3 separate regions of the Homo sapiens genome follow, and all the other regions are linked to region 3. Evidence: fine-mapped expression QTL. A gene starts in region 3. Each other region holds a variant in brackets. All regions are shown on one strand. Distances are between the middles of the regions. Region 1 overlaps CARMIL1 (capping protein regulator and myosin 1 linker 1). Region 2 overlaps CARMIL1 (capping protein regulator and myosin 1 linker 1). Region 3 holds the start of CARMIL1 (capping protein regulator and myosin 1 linker 1).

What was found.
Region 1: its variant is fine-mapped to the expression of CARMIL1 in tibial nerve (GTEx, PIP above 0.99).
Region 2: its variant is fine-mapped to the expression of CARMIL1 in tibial nerve (GTEx, PIP 0.99).

What each region holds. Positions count from the first base shown.
Region 1 is chr6:25,302,613-25,310,612 of GRCh38, forward strand. All of the region lies in intron 2 of CARMIL1 (capping protein regulator and myosin 1 linker 1), which reads left to right. Among named protein-coding and RNA genes, the nearest start is that of CARMIL1, 27 kb to the left of the region's middle. The variant A/G (reference allele first, on the strand shown) is at 3,523.
Region 2 is chr6:25,322,614-25,330,613 of GRCh38, forward strand. The region is part of intron 2 of CARMIL1 (capping protein regulator and myosin 1 linker 1); the gene reads left to right. LOC124901281 (a long non-coding RNA gene) reads right to left here. Exons shown (of 3, transcript XR_007059512.1): 3 at 5,093-6,124. Among named protein-coding and RNA genes, the nearest start is that of CARMIL1, 47 kb to the left of the region's middle. The variant C/T (reference allele first, on the strand shown) is at 4,586.
Region 3 is chr6:25,275,936-25,284,275 of GRCh38, forward strand. CARMIL1 (capping protein regulator and myosin 1 linker 1) reads left to right here and starts at 3,439. Exons shown (of 37, transcript NM_017640.6): 1 at 3,439-3,900. The coding sequence starts at 3,861. RefSeq lists a silencer at 3,167-3,636.

The DNA.
Region 1 (8,000 bases), 27 kb after region 3:
GCTGCTTTCCTCAGGGGCCCAGCCAGTCTCTTTACTCAGCAGCCTTATCTGACATAGCCCATCTTTAATTTAGCTTTGTTCACGATGCAGGGATCAATAACAGCGATGCTGGGAGGGAGGGAGAATGGCCAACTGCAAACAGCCGCCCATCTCAGCACTTGAACTGAACTCTACTTTGGTCAGGATGATTAGTGCAGTCTGGAGAGCCATTAAGTGCTCTCTGACTAGTTCATCTGAGTTCTGCTTCCCACTACACTCAATGACTAACCCAGGAGATTACAGATGCTTGAGGAGAAAGAGTGTCGTGTCTCCCTGTGTGGTACTGAGTAGTGTTTGTACCACTGTCTCAGGAATGTGAATTACAGTGCAAATGAGCTGCCTCTCTTGTTTCCTTTTCTGCACGTCATTTTAGAGAGAGTGATTTATTTTCTGTTTGCGAAGGCTTGGTCTCATCATTTAGATGAGAGAGAAATTGCATGTACTTTCAACTTTTGGCTGGTTATAGGCATCTCCTTTTTTTTTTTTTCCATTGTGAGAGTTGTTTATGCTGATTGAATGAAAAGATTCGTTTTCTTAGGCTTTCAGTGATGACACTCCATTTCTTCCATGTGATAAAATTATAATGCGTGATTTTATTTTATTATTTTTTAAAAGTAAAACTGTCACCTAACATTTCCTCTACAGTTGGGTAAAAAACTAAGAAAAGCATCTCATTTCCTATTGGTTCCATGAGCAACCCTTTTTAGCATACAGATCAGAAGCCTTGTGTGGCTCTAAGCCTATTTCCTCAATTGGGGAAGTAACAGACTCTGTTCCCAAGATATGAATAGGTGTGCTGGGTGAGAAGTGCTCTGTGCTCAAGGACTTTGACCCTTCATTTTCCAAACTTAAACAAGTTTCTCCATTTCTCTGTTCTTAGAACCTTTGGTATTCATATACTTAACATGTACATTTCTTGAAGCGCCAATTATCATCTCACAGGACACTGGTGTTCCAGGGAACTTGGAGAAAAGCTGACAAGTTATTTTAGTGTGTTATCTTTTACACAAAGGGACTCTGTTTTAGAATTTGCCATATCTGCTTTAACGCTGTACAAATTAGCCAACTGGAGAAATATATGTTAAATAACGGGTGAACAACACATAATCACCCAACCTACTTTTAGGAAGATTACTAAAACATTCCATTTAACAATCATTCAGCACTATCTGTTTGTAAAGGACACGTAAGTTTTAAAGGAAGAAGCTGGTGACTTGGGAATGGACTGGAATAAAGTCAGAGAAGTCCTTTGTCCAGGGAACTTCATCATTGGGTTTGACTTGAGAAGAACAAATCAGATAAGATTAGTCTCCTCATTATAAATGTTTAAGGTAATTTCAGATCACTCTGCTTTAAAAGTCTTGTGAAATGGGGTTGGGAAAGTTTCCTTAAATCATTTACACTTGTTGATTGTGTGCAGTTTATATTATGAGCCTGCTGCCCCCACAGGTGCTGAGCTGTGCTCACACATGGGAGGGGACATCACAGAAAAGAAGACGTAGATTTATTACCTATGGTTCTGAACTGGGACAATTGATAAAAATTACAGGTGCTGAGGATTGGCTTGAAACGCAGAATAATCTTCCTAACAGAGCTGTCCACTCATAGAATGTGCTTATTGTGAGGGTGGGGATAGAGGATGGGGAATTGAATTCCTTGCAGCTGGGTAAGTTCAAGTATAGATTGCTTGCCCTCTTAACTAGGATGTCCTATAGAACAGCCGTCCCCAACCTTTTTGGTACCAGGGAGTAGTTTTGTGGAAGACAATTTTTCCACAGACCGAGTGGGTAGGGGGATGGTTTTGGGATAAACTGTTCCACCTCAGATCATCAGGCATTAGATTCTCATAAGGAGTGTGCAGCCTGCTTCCCTCGCATGTGCAGTTCACAGTAGGGTTCACGCTCCTATGAGAATCAAATGCCTTGGCTGATCTGACAGGAGGCAGAACTCAGGTGGTAATGTTTGGTCACCTGCCGCTCACCTCCTGCTGTGCGGTCTGGTTCCTAACAGGCCACAGACTGGTACTGGTCCACAGCCCAGGGGTTGGGGACACCTGCTATAGAACATTCAAGTAGGAAAATACTTCCTTTGGTCTAAGATTCTGAAATTTACAATGTTCCCTGCTCATATATCAAATGATGTATTAGCTAGAGCTTATTGAATGTCACAGTTTTACTGTCAAGAACTTAAAACTTCTATTATGAGGCAGAGCATTTGGTAAGGATAGTTGAGTCCCTCAGTGACTGTTTGGATTGGTTCTATGTCCTAGGATTGAGTACATGATATCATTTTGATGAGGTTAAAATCCAATTAGGAGGTCTGTCCCTTTGGCTGCTGGCTGGGTTTGTTACTTTTTAGTTCCAGTAGAGATATGTGAAGCTTTTCTGAACATGTTTAGCAAGGTTTGATTTTGGCATTTCTGAATATAACTGTGAGAAGAATTATCTTCCTGCTGTCCTGGTGGCAGAAGACATTGGACTTTGTTTGCTTGTCTCTTTGGGGGCAGATACACGGGCATTTAAAGAGCCATTCTAATTTTAGGAACTTGAGAATCAGGAGTCCTGAGGGTTAGTGCTAATACTTTAAAAGGTTCTTAGGTCTGCAATTTTAGTTAATAGTGTGGGGCTGAAAAAGCCTTTTTCCAGGAATATTGTGAGAGTAAGTGGGAAGTAGAGCTTTTAGAATTTTAGGAGAAAAGGGCATGGCTATTTCAGTTAATAATACATGAAGAGTTTTCTCCTTTCAGAGTCCTCCTTTCTTTGGGTTTCAAAAGGTAAGACAATCCACGGGTTTTTTAGTTTGTCTTTCAGGTGAATTGTAAAGTTTTCCTGTAAATACTGTCATTGCACTGACATGGATATTGCTGAGCAGATAAAACAAATAGCAAGTTGAGGAGGCAGTTAATTCACACTCTTCCTTCTCTAATATGGTCTGCGGCTCTAAGAATTGTTGTCTCATCCATGGCTTTTAGACCCTTAAATTTTAGTGAGTTTCATCACACGGAAACTATTGATAATTTCTTCTTCTGAAGTTTTTTGTAAGTGGTCCCTGCTAGCTAATGGTGCACAAAATGAAGCAATACAACATTTCTCTTATGGGGACTGGGAGAGAACTGACATCCTTTATAAATATGTAGCTGATATATAGGTTACCAGCCTAAGGGCTGCCTGGTGGGGAAAGTGAGGCCTGTGCCTGTCTCTACCACTGAAGACATGTTCATCAAGCCAATATATGCCTCAGACATTAAAAATATCCTTTTTTTCATTTTAAAATAATTGCCATTAAGTATACATAACATAAAATTTACCATTTTAACCACTATTAATAAATATATGTTCAGCGGCATGAAGTATATTCTCAATGTTATGCAACGTATCCATTTCCAGAACTTTTTCATCCCAAACAGAAACTGTATCAAACACTGAGTCCTCATTCCACCTCCCCATCGCCCCTGACAATCACTAATCTACTTTCTGTTTCCAT[A/G]GAAACAGAAAATATCCCTATTTGGCATGTTTTATATAAATCAATTATATAATACGTGGCCTTTTGTGTCTGGCTTGTGTCATTTAGCAGAAGGGTCCCCAACCCCAGGGCTGCGGATAGGTACTGTTCCATGACCTTTTAGGAACCTGGGTCACACAGCAGGAGGTGAGCGGCAGGTAAGTGAGCATTACCGCCTGAGTTCTACCTCCTGTCAGATCAGCGGTGGCATTAGATTCTCATAGTTACGAGAACCCTGTTGTGAACTGTGCATTCAAGAGATGTAGGCTGTGTGCTCCATATGAGAATCTAGTTGATGCTCGATGATCTGAGGTGGAACTTTTTCATCCTGAAACCATCTCTCCTCCCCCCCACTTTTATTGAAAAGTTGTCTTCCAGGAAACCAGTCCTTGGTGCCAACAAGGTTGGGGACTGCTGACTTAGCATATGTTTTCAAGTTTCCTCTATGTTGTAGCATGTGCTAGAAGTTCATTCCTTTTTAATGCTGAATAATATTCTGTTGTATGCATATACCAATTTTTAAAAAAGTCATTCATACTTCAATGGACCTTTGAATTGTTTTTATTTTTTGGCTACTGTGAATACTATTGTGAACATTACTGTATGGCTGAACATTGCTGTATCTGAGTTCCTTCTTTCAGTTCTTTTGAGTATATACCTAGGAGTGGAATTACTGGATCATATGGCAGTTCTGTGTTTAACCACCTGTTTCCTGCAGTGCCTTGGCTTTTTTTTTTTTTTTTTTTGACGAGTCTCATTCTTGTCGCCTGGGCTGGAATGCACTGGCACGATCTCGGCTCACTGCAACCTCTGCCTCCCCAGTTCAAGTGATTCTCCTGCCTCAGCCTCTGGAGTAGCTTGGCTTACAGGCGCCTGCCACCACGCCTGGCTAATTTTTTTGTATTTTTAGTAGAGACAGGTTTTCACCATGTTGGCCAGGCTGGTCTCGAACTCCTGACCTCAGGTGATCCGCCTGCCTTGGTCTCCCAAAGTGCTGGGATTACAGCTGTGAGCCACCGCGCCCGGTCGCCCTGGTCCTTTTGAAACTGGGCAGTAATACCTGTGCTTGTAAGAGTGTTTACAAATATTTATCAGCCTTTTGGAACTTTAAATTAGAAAAGTGAACAGACTGTATTTGTTAGCACTTTATATACTTACATTATGTCATGGAACTTATTATTCGTGTTTCCTGAATGTCTGTTGTTTGGATACCTGTGTGTGTTTCCTACTCTATTAGAAATTCCTTGACCTGATCTGCAGTTCTCCATCTTTGTCCACCTTTTTTGTACCTTGTACTCAATAAATGTTTGTTGATAAATTGATTAGATGTGCAACATATTCTAAAGTATTATTTTTAAAAAAGAGATCCATTTACAAGAAGCACATTGGAATTATTTCCAGGTTTTGTTTTGCTAAAGTTAAGATCTGACATTATTTGTTAATTTCTCTTGGTTATGGAATGAAAAGTATTCCCACTGTTAAAAATAAATGTTAGATGTAGGAAGTAAACAGAGATGTATTTAGACATTGGGGAAAGGCTTCCACTGGGATCTGAAATATTGTGGGAAGAGAATCGCTATTGTTAGAGTAGTTCTGTGCCGTGTTAGTCTTTATTTTGTTTAGATACTGCTTTTTTGGGGGACCACTCTGCAGGCATCTAAATCTGAAGTGTAAGCCTCTTTTTTGATAAATGAGGGATAGCTAAAAGATGGGTTATTTTGGTTATTGGTTTTGCTTTTAATAGATAACCAGAATTTTTACCTCTTGGGAGAGAATGTTATCTACTTATTTATAGCAAGCAAGTGTTGTTACGGCAGGTGGCTGTGGATGTTGGCATTCAAATGGCACTGATAAGACTTTAAACAAGGTAGCCATCCAGTTATGCTTAGGCTAAAAAATGGCTGTGTGCAGATTAGGCTACATATTTCACATGGATATAAAGTTCTACTTTTATTAACAAACATAACAGTGCATTGCTTTTGTGTTTTTAGTTTCTCTTAGCCCTTATTTCTTGTCTCTTTTGGTGGCTTGCTGTTGTCTATAGCTGAGCTGAAACTTTCTGTGCAGGAATTAAGCTTAAAATATCAGTTTGTAGTCAGCTGTGGAGTATGATAAAACTTTGAGCAACACAGTTTCCAACAACACCCCTTTGTCACTGTGCCTGAGAAAGCTCTTATTAATAGAATTTCATGTGAGGTTCCGTGAGAAGGACTATTGTACAACCATTTTTTTTTTTTTTTTTTTTTTGAGATGGAGTCTCCCTTTGTCACCCAGACTGGAGTGCAGTGGCACGATCTCGGCTTACTGCAACCTCTGACTCCCAGATTCAAGTGATTCTCCTGCCTCAGCCTCCCGAGTAGCAGGGACTACAGGCGCGTGCCACCACACCTGGTTAATTTTTTGTATTTTTCATAGAGATGGGGTTTCACCTTGTTGGCCAGGCTGGTCTCGAACTCCTGACCTTGTGATCCACCTGCCTTGGCCTCCCAAAGTGCTGGGATTACAGGCGTGAGCCACTGTTCCGGCCATTTTTTTTTTTAACAGTGAAACAGGGAAACATAATATTTTTCTTACTTTAAAAAATCCTTCAGTTTATAATCATCAGGAGTATTGGATATCTTTTAAGTGAAGGTGGAAGTTCACTTAATAAAAAAGGAAGCTCATTTTTCCTTCTTTGAATGGTTAACATGGGAGTACCCCAAGGTGGAAGCTTTACATGACTGAGAAAGCCCATCCACTCATTGTCATAGAATCAACTATTAATTCAACAAATACTTATGGAGCCTTTGCCATGCCTATGAGCCTTGTGCTAGAAGCCAGGGATAAGTAAAATAAATTCTGCACCTGCCTCCTGCAACTTAGTCCAATTTCCAGGTCTCCCTTAGATTTTTCTCTGTTTTAATTTTTATTTTGAAAATGGAGACAGGGTCTCACTATGTTGCCCAGGCTGGTCATGAACTCCTGGGCTCAAGTGATCCTCCCGCCTAGGCCTCTTAAAGTGCTGAGATTACAGGCATGAGCCATCACACCTAGCCTCTCTCTTAAAACAACTTTATTAAAGATGTAATTCAGGCTGGGTGTGGTGGCTCACATCTGTAATCCCAGCACTTGAAAATTACTTGAAGTTGGGAGGTGGAGGTTGCAATGAGCTCAGATCATGCCACTGCACTCCAGCTTGGGTAACAGAGCAAGAGTCCCTCTCAAAAAAAAAAAAAAAAAAAAAAGTAATTCACATACCATACATTTCACCTGTTTAAAGTGTACAATTCAGTGGCTATTAGTATATTCACAGAGTTGTGCATCTATTACCAGAATCAATTTTGAGCCTTTTTTTTTTTTTAACCCCAAAAAGAAACCTCTTCCCTTTAACACTTATCCCCAGTCCACCTATCCTTCTCAGCCCTTGGCAACAGCTAGTCTACTTTCTGTCTCTATGGACCGGCCTAGTCTAGATATTTTATATAAATGGAATTATATAATATGTGGCCTTCATGTCTGGCTTATGTCATTTAGCATAATATTTTCAAAGTTCTTCCATGTTGTAGCATGGGTTAGAACTTCATTCTTCTTTTATTATGGTTGAATGATATTCCACTGTATGAATATACCACATCTTTTTTTTTTTTTTTTTTTTGGAGACAGAATCTTGCTCTGTTGCCCAGGCTAGAATGCAATGGCACGATCTCGGCTCACTGCAAGCTCCGTCTCCTGGGTTCAAGGGATTCTCCTGTCTCAGCTTCTCGAGTAGTTGGGATTACAGGTGCACGCCACCGCACCCGGCTAATTTTTGTATTTTTAGTAGAGGTGGGGCTTCACCTCCTTGGCCAGGCTGGTCTTAAACTCCTGACCTCATGATCCACCCGCCTCTGCCTCCCAAAGTGCTGGGATTACAGGAGTGAGCCACCCCGCCGGGCCACATCTTTTTTTAATCTATTCCTTCACTAATAGATTGTGGGTTGTTTCCACCTTCTCACTATGTGAGTAATGCTCTTATGAGCGTGCATACAAGTTTTTGTGTGGGCATATGTGCTCAAGTCTCTGATCCCCTAGATGTCTTGCCTATCCTACAGATCCAGGCCTACCACAAAAAAGTGTAGAAGGATCATATACCATGAGAACATAAAGGAGGGACATGTAGACTTAATTAGGGAGTCAGGGAAGGCTGCCCCTGAGGCCACCATATCCAAGCTGCGGCTTGAGAGATAGGTTGAATAGAAAAGTTTTTCAAACTGCAGCTGATCACCCATTAGTAGGTTGTGAATTCAGTTTAGTGAATCATGGCCAGCATTTTTTAGGAGGTGAACTAAAATAGAATAGTAGATGTTAGAGGACATTCCATGTGGTAAGGGTAAGTATTGTTGCATGAAATTTATTTTCAGTAGCTATATGAGCGCATCTAGCAAATTGTGACGTAAGAAGTATTCTATATTCCGGGTTGCAATCAGAAAAATATGAAAGCC
Region 2 (8,000 bases), 47 kb after region 3:
CCACATTATGACCACCTGAAAAATGCTACACTGCAGTGGTACATTCTTCAGCCCAACTAGGATTGGATCAGAGGAGTTACTGGGTTGATAGTCTTGGACTGAAGCTCTCTAAAGAGCAGAATTTCTGTGATGTGCAGGTAGCTTACTGTTACCCTGTAAGCTCCATTTTTTATATTTCTTTGCCCCTCCTTCTCAATATTCACACAGTTTTCACAGGACTGATTCAAGTGTGAAGCCAGGATCTCATCTTTTAACAGAGTGGCATTCCGCACAGTCTGAGGCATGATCTCTTTGTGTCTAGGTTGCTCCATTTAGCTTCAAAGGCAGCATGATGATTTATGGTCCATTTGTATTAGGGAAGACTCAGAGGAGGGCTAGAATTGTGATGGTTGGATTAATTCATTTTTTCCAGGCGCACCCTTTCCTCCCTATTCTTGGTTGTTTTGCAGATATCCCAAGTAATTCCAGATTCATTTGGAAGGTTTCTCTCTCAGTAGCCTGCTCTCTAGGTAGTTCTCAAATTCTAATAGACGCACAGACACAAAAATCTGCTTGGTAGGTGGGGTTTTTACTTTTTAGTGACTTTTATCTTGTGTGCCTGACCTGGTGCAGCATCTGGAAAAGTATTGGTAGAAAAGAATATTCTCAGTGAGAAGGAGAAGGAACAAGTAAAACAATGTGAACTAAAGGCCTGGCACAGTGGCTCACGCCTGTAATCCCAGCACTTTGGGAGGCCAAGGTAGGAGGGTGGCTTGAAACCAGGAATTCGAGACCAGCCTAGGCAACAGAGCGAGACCCTGTCTCTACAAAAAAAAAAAAAAAAAAAAGGCAAAAAACCCCCCAGAATTAGCCAGGTGTGGTGGCACATGCCTATAGTCCCAGCTACTCGGGAGGCTGAGGCGGGAGGATTGCTTGAGCCCAGGAGTTTGAGGCTGCCATGAGCTATGATCACACCACTGCACTCCAGCATAAAAAGCTTGGTTATTTATCTTAGTTAAAGCTGTCCTTAAAGAATTTATAAATGGTTGCAAATATTTCTGAAAATCATAGATGTATGGTTTCTATGGTTCCTGGTTACTTTATCCAGTAAAGTAACATGACAGCTTATTTTATGGATAGTCACTAGATTGTAAACCTTTGGAAGTTGGGACTGTTCCATTCATCATCTTCACATTCCCCACTGTGCAAAGCACAGTTTGCTCATTTGTTTTGTTTCATTTTTTTCCCTTTCAACTATAGTTTTCACATGTAAACCATCAAATTATAAGAGATTAAAGATAATTTAGGATTTAGGGTGTTTTGATTTTCTAGCTCATAAAATAAGGATGGAAGAGCAGTGATCAGTTGTGGTAATTGACTGTTATGGCAGAAGGCAAAAAGGCACAGAGAAAAGAGATAGAGGACAAGCCTGTTCTGGTTGGCATCCCAAGTCTAGATCCTCCATCTGGGAGCCCATGGCTCAGATAATACTCCAGGTAATCATGAATTGTGGGAGTTAACCCTGTTTAATGCCCCACAAAGGAACAGACCTGTAGGAACACCTTCTCCTGTCTGCTGCTGCCACAGAGGGTAGCAAATCCCATGCTAGGCGTGGAGAGGAGACTTGGGCATGTCCCTGGAGGGACACTGCTGCAGTCACTTCACTTACAGAGCTGGGGAGGCCCTGAATGGTGTCAGAGTTCACAGTGCAAAGCAGTAATTATGTTGAAGAATGTGACATCTCAAGATTCAACAAGTTTTTTTTTTTTTTTTGCCTTAAACATGAATGCCTATTCATAGAGGGATTATAGGAGCAAAGCTCTCTTAGATATTAAACACCCTGATCAGAAGAAAAAGAGAAGCAAATTCCTGATGTCAGGAAATAGCAGCAAATTTTTACAGAATGCTTAAGCCTGGCACAGCAATCCTAAGAATGTTGTTCAGTTTCATGGCTTTTCCTCTCATATTGGGCTGAATGTAACTTGTCCTTCATTTATGTAACAAAATATTTGAGTGCTTACTGTGAGCTAAGCACTTTCTCAGTGTTGGGAGTAAAGCAACAAGCAAAGCAAATCCCTAAGCTTTGGGGAGATGGAAAATAAATATCTGATAAAGTATATGGTAGTCATAAGAGCTGGGAGGATAGGAGATGGAGTAGGGTGATGGGTGCTGTTGGAGATAATATGTCAGGGAAGGGGGGGTGTTTAGTAGAGGGCTGAAGTGAGGGAGAAGGTGTTCCAGGTGAGGGCACAGGTGTGAATGTAGACCCTAATGTGGAAGTGTGCTTGGGTGGGTCAAGGAAGTGAACCCTAAGAGGACCACTGGGCAGAAGTGGAAGAGCTAGGATAGGGAGGTGGGGCTGAGGGTGACCAGGGGCCAAGCCATGCAGAGCCTCTTAGGTCCTGAGCTTTCTCAGTGGTCTCCCCTTCATCTGCTTTGGAGCTTGCTTTCCTATGTGGCAACATTAGTTCTAGTGTGATGAATATTAGTGGGAAAATAGAAAGTTCTATATAAAACTTACTTCTGGAAACTAAAGGATTCTTGCTTAGACCTCAGATGTTGATGGGTGGTAGATTAAAGGCCGTTTTCTCATTTGTTGAGCTGTGCCCTGAGATGAGTTTTCTATATTCGTGTGGTAGAGAATTCATTGAAACTTGAATACGTGCCATTATGTGAGGCAGAAGTGTATATTCTATGAAAGGGTGTTGACATATTGTCACATACCATGAGCTGCTTAATCTGGGAATATTTGTAAAAGTGTCATCTGGTGTGAAGGCTGATATTTAACTATCTTTAAAAAATACTGGAAAAGACAATTTGCTTGCAGATTTTAGGGTTTTGCTGTGGGTCTGTTTTTGTGGAAATGATTTGTGTTCAGTAGCATTTTTTCCCCTACAGTTTTCATATGGTACTGTTTTGACTTGTTTGGAAGATAATTTGCTTGGCTTAAAGGGAATTATTCGAACAATCTTAGAAGTTTAAAAAATTATGTTAGCTAGAAATCAGAAGTTTTTGCCTTTACTGAAAAGTTCATTATTTATTCATTAATTTATCCATCCATTTATACAACAAAAAGTGATTCAGCATGTAGCGTGTAGCAGACAGTGTGCTGAAGATACAGCAGATGTAACAGATATGGCTTGATTAGTCTTGCTAGGCAGCAAGAGACAAACATATGCATACACTTCCACACTAATTATGGTAAGGGCTAAAACTTATTGAAAACAGTATAGTGATAGGGAATTTGGAGTGGGGTGGGGAGCTGTGTAGGATAGTCAGATGAGACTTTTTTTTTTGAGACAGAGTCTTGCTCTGTCGCCAGGCTTTAGTGCAGTGGCGCAATCTCAGCTCACTGCAATCCCCACCTCCTGGGTTCAAGCAATTCCCCTGCCTCAGCCTCCCTAGCAGTTGGGACTACAGGCGCGCACCAGCTCGCCCGGCTAATTTTTTGTATTTTAGTAGAGACGGAGTTTCACCGTGTTGGCCAGGATGGTGTCGATTTCCTGACCTCGTGATCCGCCCACCTCAGCCTCCCAAAATGCTGGGATTACAGGCGTGAGCCACTGCGCTCGGCCTAGATGAGACATTTTTGAGAAAATAACATTTAAGATGAGGCCTGAAGGAAAATAGTGCCAGCCATTTGAAGAGTGAGGGAAAGGGGTTTCCAGGCAGATTCAATATATTGTGCAAAGGCCCTGAGGAAGTGTGTGGTTTTAGTGGAGAGCTAAAGAACCATGAGGCAAGAGCATCGGGATATCCAAGAAGTCATGCTGGATTACATATACTGGTCAGTAAGGAGCTTGGATTTGATTTTACTGGGGAAATAACATAATCTGATATGTTTAAAATGATTACTGAGGCTTCTAAGTAGAGCATTACACTGTTAACAGTAGTGGGAGTGAGAGGTCAGGCTTGGTCTAGGGCAGTGCTTCTCAATGTGTGGTCTCAGGATCAGCCCTATCAGAATGACCTGGAAACCTGTAAGAAATGCATACTTCAAGTCTTATTATGGACTTGCTGATTCAGAACCTGGAGGTGGGACTCAGCAATCTGCTTTAACAAGTCCTTTGGATGATCTGATATACAGAAAAGTTTGAGAACCACTGGTCTAGGGATTGCTGGAGGAGATGGTAAGCAGTAGATGGATTCTGGTGTATGTTTTGAAGGTAGGGATGATAGGACTTTTGTATATGGGAGCTGAGGAAAAAGGAGAAATCAGAAATATTATTATTATTATTAATGTTTCAAGACGGAATCCCACTGTCACCCAGGCTGGAGTGCAGTGGCATGATCTTGGCTCACTGCAACCTGATAAGGACCTTGTTTATTGTGATGAGGGAGACTGGTGGGGGTAGCAAAAGGACATAACTTTTGAACACATTGCGTTTGGAGTGTTCATGAAATGTCCAAGTGAAGATGTTGGCTGTTGATGGCAAAATGAGCGTACAGTCCAGAGGGAAGATGTAGTTTCAAATACAGCTCAGCAGAAAGATACAGTTTCCAGAAAGGAATTTGGGACTTGCCAGTGTACAGGGAGTATTTAAAGCAATTGAAATAGGTGTGATATCACCAAGGAGAGAGATAGCAAGGAGAGAGGGTGCAAGAG[C/T]GGGCAAAGGACCAAGCTGGAAGGAACTCTTGACATTCACAGGAGCAAGAGCCAGCAAAAGAACAGAAAGAACGGCCAGGGAGAGAAGAGAAGAAAACCAGGAAACTGGTTTCATGGGGAAATATTTCAGGAACAGAGTGATCAACTGTGCTTAATTTGTATGATGAAGCGGAGATTTGTAGCATAGAGATCACTAGGCATTCTATTTGGACTGTCAGTGAAATTGAAATAAAAAGTCAAGAATCAACTTGATTTCCATCACAGGTTTTAGATTAGAAGAAACCAGAGAAACACAGCCCCAATTTTCTATTTGCTAGTTTTCCAAACAGTAAGTTTTCATTGATTTCACTGGCTCCCCTCCGGCTACTATTTGCTGTGCACAAACAAAGTCTGAATGAGCATTTTGTAGTCCTGAAAAGGAGTAGCATATGGGCTTCAACAGCCGGTCATATTTTCTTTTATTACTATATTTAAAGCAACATTCAAGATTAAAAAAAAATTCCTGGCAACTAGCATAACAAGCTGCAATAAAATCATTCCTGGCTATTGATATGGGCTACTTTGTGCCTCATGTCATGTTATTGAATCCAACTTCTTGGAATTGACTGTCTTAATCTGTCACTTAGCAAATTTATATTGGTGAGGAAGAACAAAAACAGATTTATAACTTGCATATCTCTTCAAGCTTCTGTTAATATGCTCAATATTAGAATGTTCTACTTTTAGCGTTTTGGGTCATAAGCTATAGAACATTGGGGCTTGGTGAGAGGATATGGGCATGGGGAGAGGAATGAATATTTGGCATTATTTATGTTTGAACCATTGAGCTGGGGTCTTTAGGTTTATTATTTCATTTAATTCCCACTCTGACGTAGGTGGTATTTCCCTCATTAGTAGATAAGGAAATGAGCTAGTAAAGAAAACTATTTAAATCCAGATCTAAAATGGATCTTTATTCTGTGCCAAGCTCTTGGGGGAAGAGTATGTGTGGAGGAGGAGTTGTGGGGACTCACAGAGCAGTGGCAAGGCAAGCCAGAGATACAGCAAAGGGATATCAAGGACTAATGAGGTACTTTAAAGGAGATCGAGTCATGGTAAGGCATTTAAATTAGTTTTGTTAGCAAGTACTGCATGGAACAGGAAGACTCTGTACATGCTCAGTGTAGGGCTTGGTCCGTCAAGACTGGCTAGGAGTTTTCTAGATAGAGCCTTGAATCTTGCATTACAGTCACTACAGAGCATGAGCTCTGTGGACATTTCATGAAAAGCTTCCTTTCTACTTGGATATATTTTTTTACTTCTTGTGTGCATACTTGATTTATTTACTGTTCCTTATAGAGCTGCAAGGCCTTGTTTCTTTTCTATAGAAGTTATATTTCTCTGAGTTCAGATGTCACATCTTCGTTACCTTCTCTCAAGTTTTGCTATACAAGCTTAGGAACGTCATCTCTTTCTCTTCCAGAGTTATCTTCCATCATGTAGGCTTTGGAGCCACTTTCCTCAGAGCCTCCATTTGCCTCACCTCTTCTTGCCTGGGACCTTGTAAAAACAGTGATTGTGGTAATTAAATTGAGATATGAGGAATATATATAACTATTATGTAGTCATAATAATTAAAAATTTAAAAAAAATGCAATGAGAGGGGAAAAAAATCTCCTGGATTGGTGAGCTAGACAAAACTTCATGTTAATTAACATGGATGCTTTAATCCATCTATTCCTGAGTCCAGGACATCAAATCTTGGGTTCTACAATGGGTGCCAGTCTTAGGAGGGTCATATGTATTTCCAGTCACAAAAGATCTTTCTGTCATGTTGGAGAAGACAAAAGTTTATAAGAATCAGTGGGCCATTTAAAATGATAATGAGCAACTTAGGCGTAAAGCCAGATGTCACAGGCTGGTGGCTTGCAGCCTGCTCTACTGTGCTTTAAATACGCAGTATTTAAAAAATTGATGTTGGTTCCCAATATTTATAAATTGGGAGATATCAGCCATAAATCTAGATTCCATCCTCCCCCACCTTTAAAAAAAAGAAAGTTGGATCTGGGAACACTAGGTCTATGTTTGTGCTTAGCAGGAATCGGAAGAGCTGGGTTGTGACCAGGCTCTTTCTTTTAGCAGTGGCAAGCTCTTTTCAGCTTTCTGCCATCCCGAAAGCACCCTAGTGTTTCTCATTGGCCGTGATGCCCATGTTGACTGCAATTTGTCATTGTCCTCAAGGCTGTCGTTTTTTCCACAGAGCCGGCTTTGCTCTTTGACAAAGCTACTTTGGCCTCCTTATACATTTGAGTTCATTGATCCTTAGCCTAAATGATCAGGACATGACACATTCAGAAGTTTGTATTATCTTGTAAAAGCACATGAGCAAAGTCTGTCTAGTAAGTGACATTGCTGGTATTCAGACCAGGATATGGCTGAGAGGAAGCACATATGTAAATTGAATGCATCAGGGATCTTTTGGAGAAGTCAAACAAGAATTCTGATTACCTCATCAGTGATACCTAAATGCAGATTTCTTCTTGCTTCAGACAAAATTTTTCAAAGATACTCAAAGTATCTCAGCTCTTGTTGTATGTGTGTTTTGAAAGATAGGGTTGAAGAAAACAATGAAAAGATAACAGGGATATCTGTCCTCCAGAGTTGTTCAGGGGATTCAGCATATGAGAAGTTATTTGCGAAGTTTTAGTTCCCAGTCTGGGCATCAGCTCATTATCATTAGTCTCTGATATGAGTTGTTTAATGATGAACTTGTGCAAAGCACTTGATCCTATTCAGCGTCAGACATTCATTGTTAAAAGAACACATTGAGGACACTGTTGTAGGTCAGGAAATTGAAGGTAGGGAGTTGAGGGCAAGTAGAAGAGAGTTTCATTCTGGAGTTAGTTCAGTAAACATTGAATGCTCATGATGTGTCAGGCTTTATGCTGCTACCAGAGGCAGGAAGATAAATAAGACAGAACATGCAGACTTGAACAGTACGGTGTGGTAAGAGGTGTGCCCATGGTACTGTGCGATTATAGACTGGCGTTGGCCCAGTGCAGGGCTAGAGGGATGCTCCATGGTGATGACTGAGTTGAGCCTTAAGGCCCGGATGAGCTGGCCAGGTAGTGATGACAAGAGGGAGAGGGATTTAAAGTGTGAAGTTCAATTTAAGGAACAGAGATGATGCAGGAAGGGCTAAGATATGGAAGGCTTTGATGAAGATTTTGGGGAGCCAGGGAAGAAGGGGAGAGATGATCAGATTTCCATTTTGATTGCAGCTTGGTAACTGGATTACAGTGTGGCAGAACTGGAGGCTGGGAGACCAGGAAGGTTTCAACCAAGTTAGAAAATCATTTTTGGTTTAGAAGACAGTGAGGGGCTGGGTGTGGTGGCTCATGCCTGTAATCCTAGCACTTTCTCAGGCTGAGGCAGG
Region 3 (8,340 bases):
CGTTCTGTTTTATTATTGTTATGAAACATTGCAAACACATACAAAAGTGAAAGCAATGCCTTCCCATGGATCTGATATCCAGCTGCAACAAAAATCAACACAAGGTCACTCTGATTTCATCTATATCTCTACTCAATACTCTCCACCCCCCACCATCCCTATGGGCTATTTTCAAGCAAATCTCAGGTCTCATATAATTTCATTTGTAAATACTTTAAAGGAGTATTGTTTAATAGCCATTTACCTTCCACCGTCTTCTAGTCAGAGATAAACTAAGTTTTCTTAGAGGTGTTTGCAAGCTTAGTTCACATTGCCTACCCTCCTGAAAGATCTTTATTAACCAAGTTGAAAAATACACCTTCTTAAGAAGGCCCCTTCCCCAATGGTTACTGGGGGTGGAAGGTAATCTTAAAATCATTACTTGGGGAGTAAAATGCTGGTGGTTCCCACATTTCTGAATACCTTTCCATTTTAAAACCAGTTCTTAATGCAGTAGACGAGATCAGAAACTGACCTACGTAAGTTTGTGATTTTTTTTTTTGTTAGAGTGCTGATTTCTTCTTAACTTTTTTGTTTGCTTTATCTCCATGGGTTTAATCATTACATGATATGGTTCTAATGATAGCATGTTGTGTCATTTTAGGGACACTATTTTCTGCAAACTTTTTTACTCAGAGTGTTTTCTGACCATAATGCATTACAAAATGTACTATATAGATGTGAATATATGCTTAGAATTAAAAATAAAAATCCATGGATAAGTTTTCAAAATAATGTTGCCACTCACTGTATGTTTCAAAAGAGATGGGGTTTCACTATGTTGCTCAGTCTGGTCTGTCCCAAACTCCTGGGCTCAAGCAATCCACCCACTTCGGCATCCCAAAGCATTTGGAATTACAAATGTGAGCCACTGCACCTGGCCTTGCCATGCTTTTCAAATTACACTCTTCTCCATCTTCCTTTTCAAAATAATGTTGCCACTCACTATATGTTAAATGTTAAACATTTTACAGATTCAAATGCAGTAGGGATTCTCTGAAAAAGTTTTATCTTACTAACAGCTTTCAGATTATCAGTACTAGTTGTATGGCTTAAACACAGCCACATGTAAATACTTACTTAGATGAAGCTATGGCTAATCACATATGTAACACAATCAGTTTCATGTAGTGGTTTGATCACTCGTGTATTCAAGACTATATAAACAGGGATGAATTTGAGGAAGTTGGAGTGATGGAGTGAGAAAAGTTTGTTTTTGCAGCAGTAGCAGTAGAAGGGGCAGGCCGATTCAGTAAACAAGCACACATTTCAGAATGCAAACTGCATTCTCCAAGCTGGCACCATGGTTTTACGGTGCTAGGGATGTTTACTGCTTGTTGGGTTTGCAGCTTTATAAACAGTGCTCCTTGGAGTTCTCTGCTTGCTATTCTGAAACATATTTGAGTTTTGCAACCGAGAAGTAAATGACTTTGATTTCCAAAATCAGTCAGTCATTTTTCAGTGTTGTGATAGGAGATTCATTTGAATTCACTTCTTCAGAGATGCAGGAGCCAATCAGGATCCTGTTGCAGTGAAAATGATTCTTTTATTGAAACCCCAGCTTCCTTTAAAAGAAGCCAAAGAGTACTGAATTACAGAACTGCCATACAGCCTTCCCTTTATTCTTTCCATCACCCAGGCCACAGGAAAAAAAAAAAAAAGACAAACTTTTGTTCTTATTTTCACAAGTTATCACATGGTTTGGAAACTTCAGGGCATTTCTGAAACTTCATTGGTATGTGCCAGAAAAGTCCTCTTTAACACACCAGGTTGAATGAAAGACAGTTTGAGATGTTAATTTCCATTTACTGCAGAAAAAATATATTTAATGCATTAAGGAAATGTCTAGCTTAAAGAAATTGCCCACTTTTGAAACAAATGGTTGGAGGCCTGAGGTCCAAAGCTCTAAAATCAGTTAACAAATGTTTATTGAACACCTATTTTGAACTAGGCTGTTGAAGAAGTTCAAAAGTCTAAGATAAATTCCCACTTTCAACTCACCTACAGTCTAGTTGGGCAGAAAAAATCCAAACTCAGGGGACAATGCAAGAGTTAGATAGTAAAACCAGACAAATACACAAGCAATGAAACACGACACCATATGGTTGGGTTTAGAAAAGTGTTTCAGGCAATACATATTGTAGAGGCTTAGGGATCACAGTAATCTGAAAATCCCTGGAAAATATTCACAAAGAAGGTAGACCATTGGGATGGGTTTGAAAACATAGATAAGAATCAGATAACCTTAAGAGGAAGGAGGAAGCAAACAGTGAGTCTGGTTGTAATAGAGAAGGGAGTGGGAGAGGTTAAGGAGGGTGGGAAGGGGCCAGGTTGGCAAATCCTTAGTGGTAAGGCCTGGCTGTGGGGCTGAAGATGATTCTAAGGGGTCCAAGGTCAACAGCAGTGTTTAAAATTAGATTGCCAAGTGCATGGATTCCCTTTCCTTTCCTCCTTTTCTGTCCTTTAAAAGCAGAACCTGATTAGACAGTCTGGGACATTCCCAGCCCTAGGCTAAAAAGCAGCGATTGAGGCACAAAGTATTCTTGGCCCTGAAGTTGAACCTCTGGGGATGGAGCTCAGGGAAGTCATAGGGAGTTTGGGCCCAGGTAGGATCAGACCTATCCGCAGGCTTACATAGGCTCCAGTGATTAAAGCTCAGCTTCCTGAATATGCCCCGAGGATAAAAGAGACTTTTCCGAGTGAAAGGCATTTTCCAAGGCGCTCTCAACGGGAATGTCTGAGATAGCGAACTGCGGCTGCAGAGCACCAGCTGAACGCACACACACAAGTGTCTTCTCACGGTATGATTAGTGTTCACAGGTTTCGTCTAGCTCATCAGAAATGAAGAATAGCGATGATGAAGTGACATGTCACCGGGAGGGTTGAAAAAGAAAAAGTGCGTAAGAGGGTCCCAAAAAGAACCAGCTTCCGTGTAGACGGGTCTGCAGAATCTGCCGTCTCCCGTCTTCTGGGTCCCCTGGCCCGCCCGGAGTGGGGACAAGGAAATGGAAAGCCCGGCTCACCCGGCTCTCCTCCCTCGCAGCCAGCAGATGGCTCCCGGGCTCTCTCGCGAGCCCGCTCGCCCCCTCTCCAGACGCAGGGCTTTTGCGGTTTGGGAGGGAGGCTGCGAGGAGGGGCGCGGTGCCCGCCGCCGCCACCGCAGCACCGCACAGCGTCTCTCCTGGGGGTGCGACCTACGCCGGGGACCCAGCGCTCGGGCACCGGAGGCCGGCCTCGCACCGGTGCGGAGGCCGGCTCTCGCGAGGTGAGGAGGAAACGCAGGAGGAAGAGGAGAAGGAGAAGGAGGAGAAGGAGGAGGGCCGGAGCTGCCCCCGCCCAGCCGGAGCCCGGCAGGAGCGCGAGGAAAACCTACTCCCCCCGCCCCGCGCCGCTCTCCCCGCCCTCTCCCACGCCTTCCGCTTTCACCTAGGGCTGTAGGTGCGGCGCGGAGGCTGGGCGGGAGCTACGCCGGCCCAAGCCCCGCCGGGGACCAGCGAGCCGGGAGGAGGAGCAGGCGCCACAGCCGCCCCGCGCCCCGCGCCCGCTTGTAATCCGGTCCGCTCCTTATTCAGCCGCCGGGAACTGCGAGGAGGCGTCATGTAGCAGCAGCAGCAAATCCGCCTCGCATTTGCAACTCTTTTTTTTTTTTTTGGTGGGGCGGGGGGCGCGCGGCAAAATTCTGTCTCCGCCCCCCCTTTTCTTGCCCACTTCCATTTGCAAGCTGCATCTGCCTCTCTAAAAAAATTGAGGAGTTCGGGGAAGGGCAGGGGGCCATAAATCAGAGTTGGACCTGCAATAACCCCCACACCTACAGGGCAACCATGACCGAGGAGAGCTCTGACGTTCCCAGGGAGTTGATAGGTAAGATTCACGCGGTTGTTGGTTTTCCACCTTCCTCTGCGTACTCCTCACCTCTCTCTCCCTTCCCACCTCTGCTTTCCCGCAGGTCTCGAGAAGTCTTGGCGCCCCTTAGGGCAGAGTGGTGTTGGGCAGGGTCACTGGGGGTGCCGGGAAGTTTGTTCCCATCCGACCGCCTGTAGAGCCAAGTGCAGAGAGGGAAGGCTTCGGGGAGGAATCGGGAGTCCTCGGGAGGTGGGTGGGAGGAGGGTCTCGACTGTGAGCCCTGGGCACCTCCTCTTGCCCGGAAGCGGGGATCCAGGTTGGCGAAAGAAGGGGGCGGGCCATCTTAGACTTGGGAGTTCTGCAAGCGAGGGGAGCCCTTTACAGCTCCCAGCCCACTGCCCCAAACTCGGGAAAGTCCGGGAAAGCCTATTGGAAGGACAGGTGGCGAGCGCACAGTAGGTCGTCTCCGGCACGTGTCAGGCGCTTTCCTGAAAATGCCCCGCGGGAGGTGATCTTCTGACACGCAGACTTGGGGGAGTGGGCGCTAGTCTGGTAAAATGACTGGGCTTGGCAAGGTGTGGCTTGGTGTAGCCAGCTGGGAGCGAAAGGGTTACAGGGCTGACGCAGACTCAGGCCAGGAAATAGAGGGTTAATGATAAAAGCCTTATTTTAATAATGATTAACCTACCGATTCTCCCTATAGGGGATCTCTTAGGGAACCCGTGTGTGTTACGCTGTGCAAGGTGACCCATTGTTTGAGTACCTTGAGGTTTTTTTTTTTTTGGTGGTGGTGGGGGCGGGGCTGGTTAAGTCTTGGGGTTTAACTTAATTATCTGGAGGGTTAAAATGGCAGAGCTGAAATAGGATGGGAGAGTGTTCTGAAAACCTAGCGTTTAAGCATGTATATGTGTGTAGCATGTTATACTGTAACAAGGTATGTGCGTCTGTGTACAGATGTGTTTTGAGCCCTAGTGACCTATATTCCCTCCTGTACCATTCTTGGCACACTACACAGCCTACAGCTCACAAAGATGATGTTTAATCGGCGCTGACAACAAGAGGAAGTTCTGAGCACCCGTTGATCTCCATGTGTGGAATTTGCCCCTCTGTTGTTTCTTTTAGCTAATAATACTTTGGAGGAATTTGTGTATGCCCTTCCGTTGGTGACTGTTAACTCAGCAGGTAAAACTTGATGTAGAGAGGCTGTTGCTAGGTTTGTATGGAAGCCCCTACTTCTGCTGAATTACAGACAAACCTGATCTTTTACCAGAATTTACAGTATGAAATTATTCACAGACGCACGCGCGTGTGCGCGCGCGCACACACACACACACACACACACACACACACACGCACCTCTCATCATGATCCCAGCAGATCCTCTTCTCTCTCCCCAACCCTGTGGAGTCTGCATCTTTTGCTGGAGTGAGTGACACATCCGGTTCTGGGAGGCTGCGACCTTTCCAACACCCCAAGCAAACGCCAGAGGCTCTGAAGACGCCTCCAGAGGTCCTGAGAATGAGTGTAGGGCAGGGCTTGCCTGGCTGGTCAGGGGATAAGGATGGCTAAAGTGGGTGGCAGATTTTTACTTTATATAAGGAGTTGTCCTTAAGTCTGGAAATGGAAAGTGTAGGTAATTACTTAGGCCCAAGAGAAAGAGTGAAGGGTAGAGTGGAAATAAGGTGTCTGGGTTTCTATTCATGGTTCTCAAAAGGAATAGTTTGTATATTTTAAAAGTTGAGTTTGACCTTTATCTTGAAATGGAATTTTTGTTTTTATTAAGTATTGCCTATCTCTTTCAAGAGAGTGACATATTATGCCCGATATGATTTTTCTGGGCCTTTCAGTGGTCAAGTTAGGCTGGGATAGAATAAATACCTGCACCTGCTTTCCTCTAAATTCAAGTGCTCACAAGAGTTCTGCTCTGATCAATTCAAAATGGCGACCGACCACATGAAAACCTCTATATATTCCCTTAAGATTCCCTCAAGATATTTAAAAAGTGTTACAGACTTGGCTGAGCGTGGTGGCTCACCCCTGTAATCCTAGCACTTTGGGAGGCCGAGGCAGGTGGATCACCTGAGGTCGGGAGTTGGAGACCAGCCTGACCAACATGAAGAAACCCGGTCTCTACTAAAAATACAAAAATTAGCTGGGCGTGGGGGCACGTGGCTGTAATCCCAGCTACTCGGGAGGCTGAGGCAGGAGAATCACTTGAACCCGGGAGGCGGAGGTTGCCGTAAGCCGAGATCAAGCCATTTCATTCCAGCCTGGGCAATAAGAGTGAAACTCCATCTCAAAAAAAAAAAAAAAAAAAAAAAGTGTTATAGACTTTATGTAGAAACAATTTAAATGTAGAGAAGAATAAGAAGACTATATGTCACTCCTGTTACCACTTAGAGGTAGTTATTTTAAAGGGTATATGATTTTCCAGTCTGTTTCCATGTGTATATGTTCTTAAGTCAATTTCAGATGCCCATTTCCCGCAATTCTTTTTTAGGGGAGGGAGGAGTGGCCTGTGCTTGTTTCTCGAGTTCTGATAAGATAGGAGCTTTGTGAAGAACTCATAGTGCAGTGAGCTCTTCTACATGTTCCCTTGCCCCAAACATTCCACCTCCTTGCTGTTCCTTGAACAGGCTGTGCTTTCTCAGATTTCCATGCTGTTCTTTATGCGTACACTGTCTTTTTCTCCCCGTTTTCACTCTTTATCTCAGCAGCTCTAAACTTTCATGGCGGTATTTCCAAGAAGAAAATTTTGATTACCCCTTATTAAACATATATTTGTTAAACTACATGCTCCATTTAGTGTGTATAATCTAAAACACAAACTGAAACACACATTGTAAGTAGAAATGAAAATTCTATTTTCTTCTTTCATCTCAATGGATTATATTGTACACTCTACTTTGGAAACCAGTGATCTTATTTCCTATGCCTTCAAGATTCAGCTCAGGGATCCTCTCCTCCCTGAAACCTTTGCGTGCTTCCGAATCCATGATCTTATGCATTGTGTGTGAATTTCTTTTATGACATCTCTCAGTGACCTCCACTAGATTGCAAACTCCTGTGAAATGCAAAGACCATCTCTATCTAGCACCTAGTAGAGTACCTGACATACAAGAGGTACTCCTATGTACATTTATTTGTTGAACATGTGAATAGACCAAAATGATTATAATACAGAATACAGAGGTATGGGAGCATAGAGGAGGGGACTGTATTTTGGAGGATAAGTAGAATATAACCAGGAGGACAATAGGGAAAGGGCATCCCAGGAAAGAGAATAATAGATACACAATCCTAGGGGTGTAAAAGATGAAGATATTAGGAATAATTGGATGTTTAGGTATGTGCTGAGAAGTCACACTGAAAATAAATGTGAAAGACCTTGAATGGCATGCCATGAGTTTTGGGTTTATTCAAAAATGACTGCAACTCGTAGACTGGGAGGGACGTGATGAATCTCACAGTTTTGGAAGAGTCACTGTGGTTATGGAGGTGACAGTGGGCTGATGGGTTAGAGGCCATGGACTTAGTCTTGGTGAGAGATTCTGAGGCCCTTACTGCAGTCATGCCTAGGTAGTCAGGAGCCGTGGAGGAGGTAGATTTTAGGAGACTGACTTTCTGTCTGAGAGAAAGGAGTTGGACATAAGCATTTTCCAGCAACATTAGTGTCCAGAGTAGGAGATAATGAGTTTGATTTCAGACGTATTCATTTTGAGGTACTCATGGGAGCCCTAGGAAGACTTTTCCACCACCATCTGAAATGTGAAGTCTCCAGATTTCTCCTTCTATTGCCTTTGACCACTTCTTGGGGGTATTGTGCTGTCATGATTTTGGAAGGACAGATGGCTGGGAGTGCCTTTGTTTGAGTAAATCATCTGGTATAGTTCTGGCTTATTTTTATTTTTTTGAGACAGAGTCTCACTGTGTCACTCAGGCTGGAATGCAGTGGCACGATCTCAGCTCCACTGCAACCTCCACCTCTCGGTTTCAAGCAATTCTCGTGCTTCAGCCCCTGGACTAACTGAGATTACAGGCACGCACCACCACACCTGGCTAATTTTTTTTTGTATTTTTAGTAGAGGCAGGGTTTATCCATGTTGGCCAGGCTGGTCTTGAACTCCTGGCCTCAAGCGATCCACCTTCCTCAGCCTCCCAAAGTGCTGGGATTACAGACGTGAGCCAACGTGCCCAGCCCGGTTCTGTTCTGTTTTGTTTTGCCGTATTCCCCAAACATCATGTCAAGACTTACTCATAGAGAATGCTAATATTTGTATGACACTATGGTGAACCCAGAGGCTGCTGGGCACCAGAGGTAACCAGCCAGGGGCAGAGGGAATTTATGAATTCCTGTTGTGTTCTGCATGCAACGTAGTGTTTCATCATACTGCCCAACTTCACTGTTTGCTGTTCTTTGTTTTTTCTTTTATATGTATCTTATTTTCCAAACAAGAT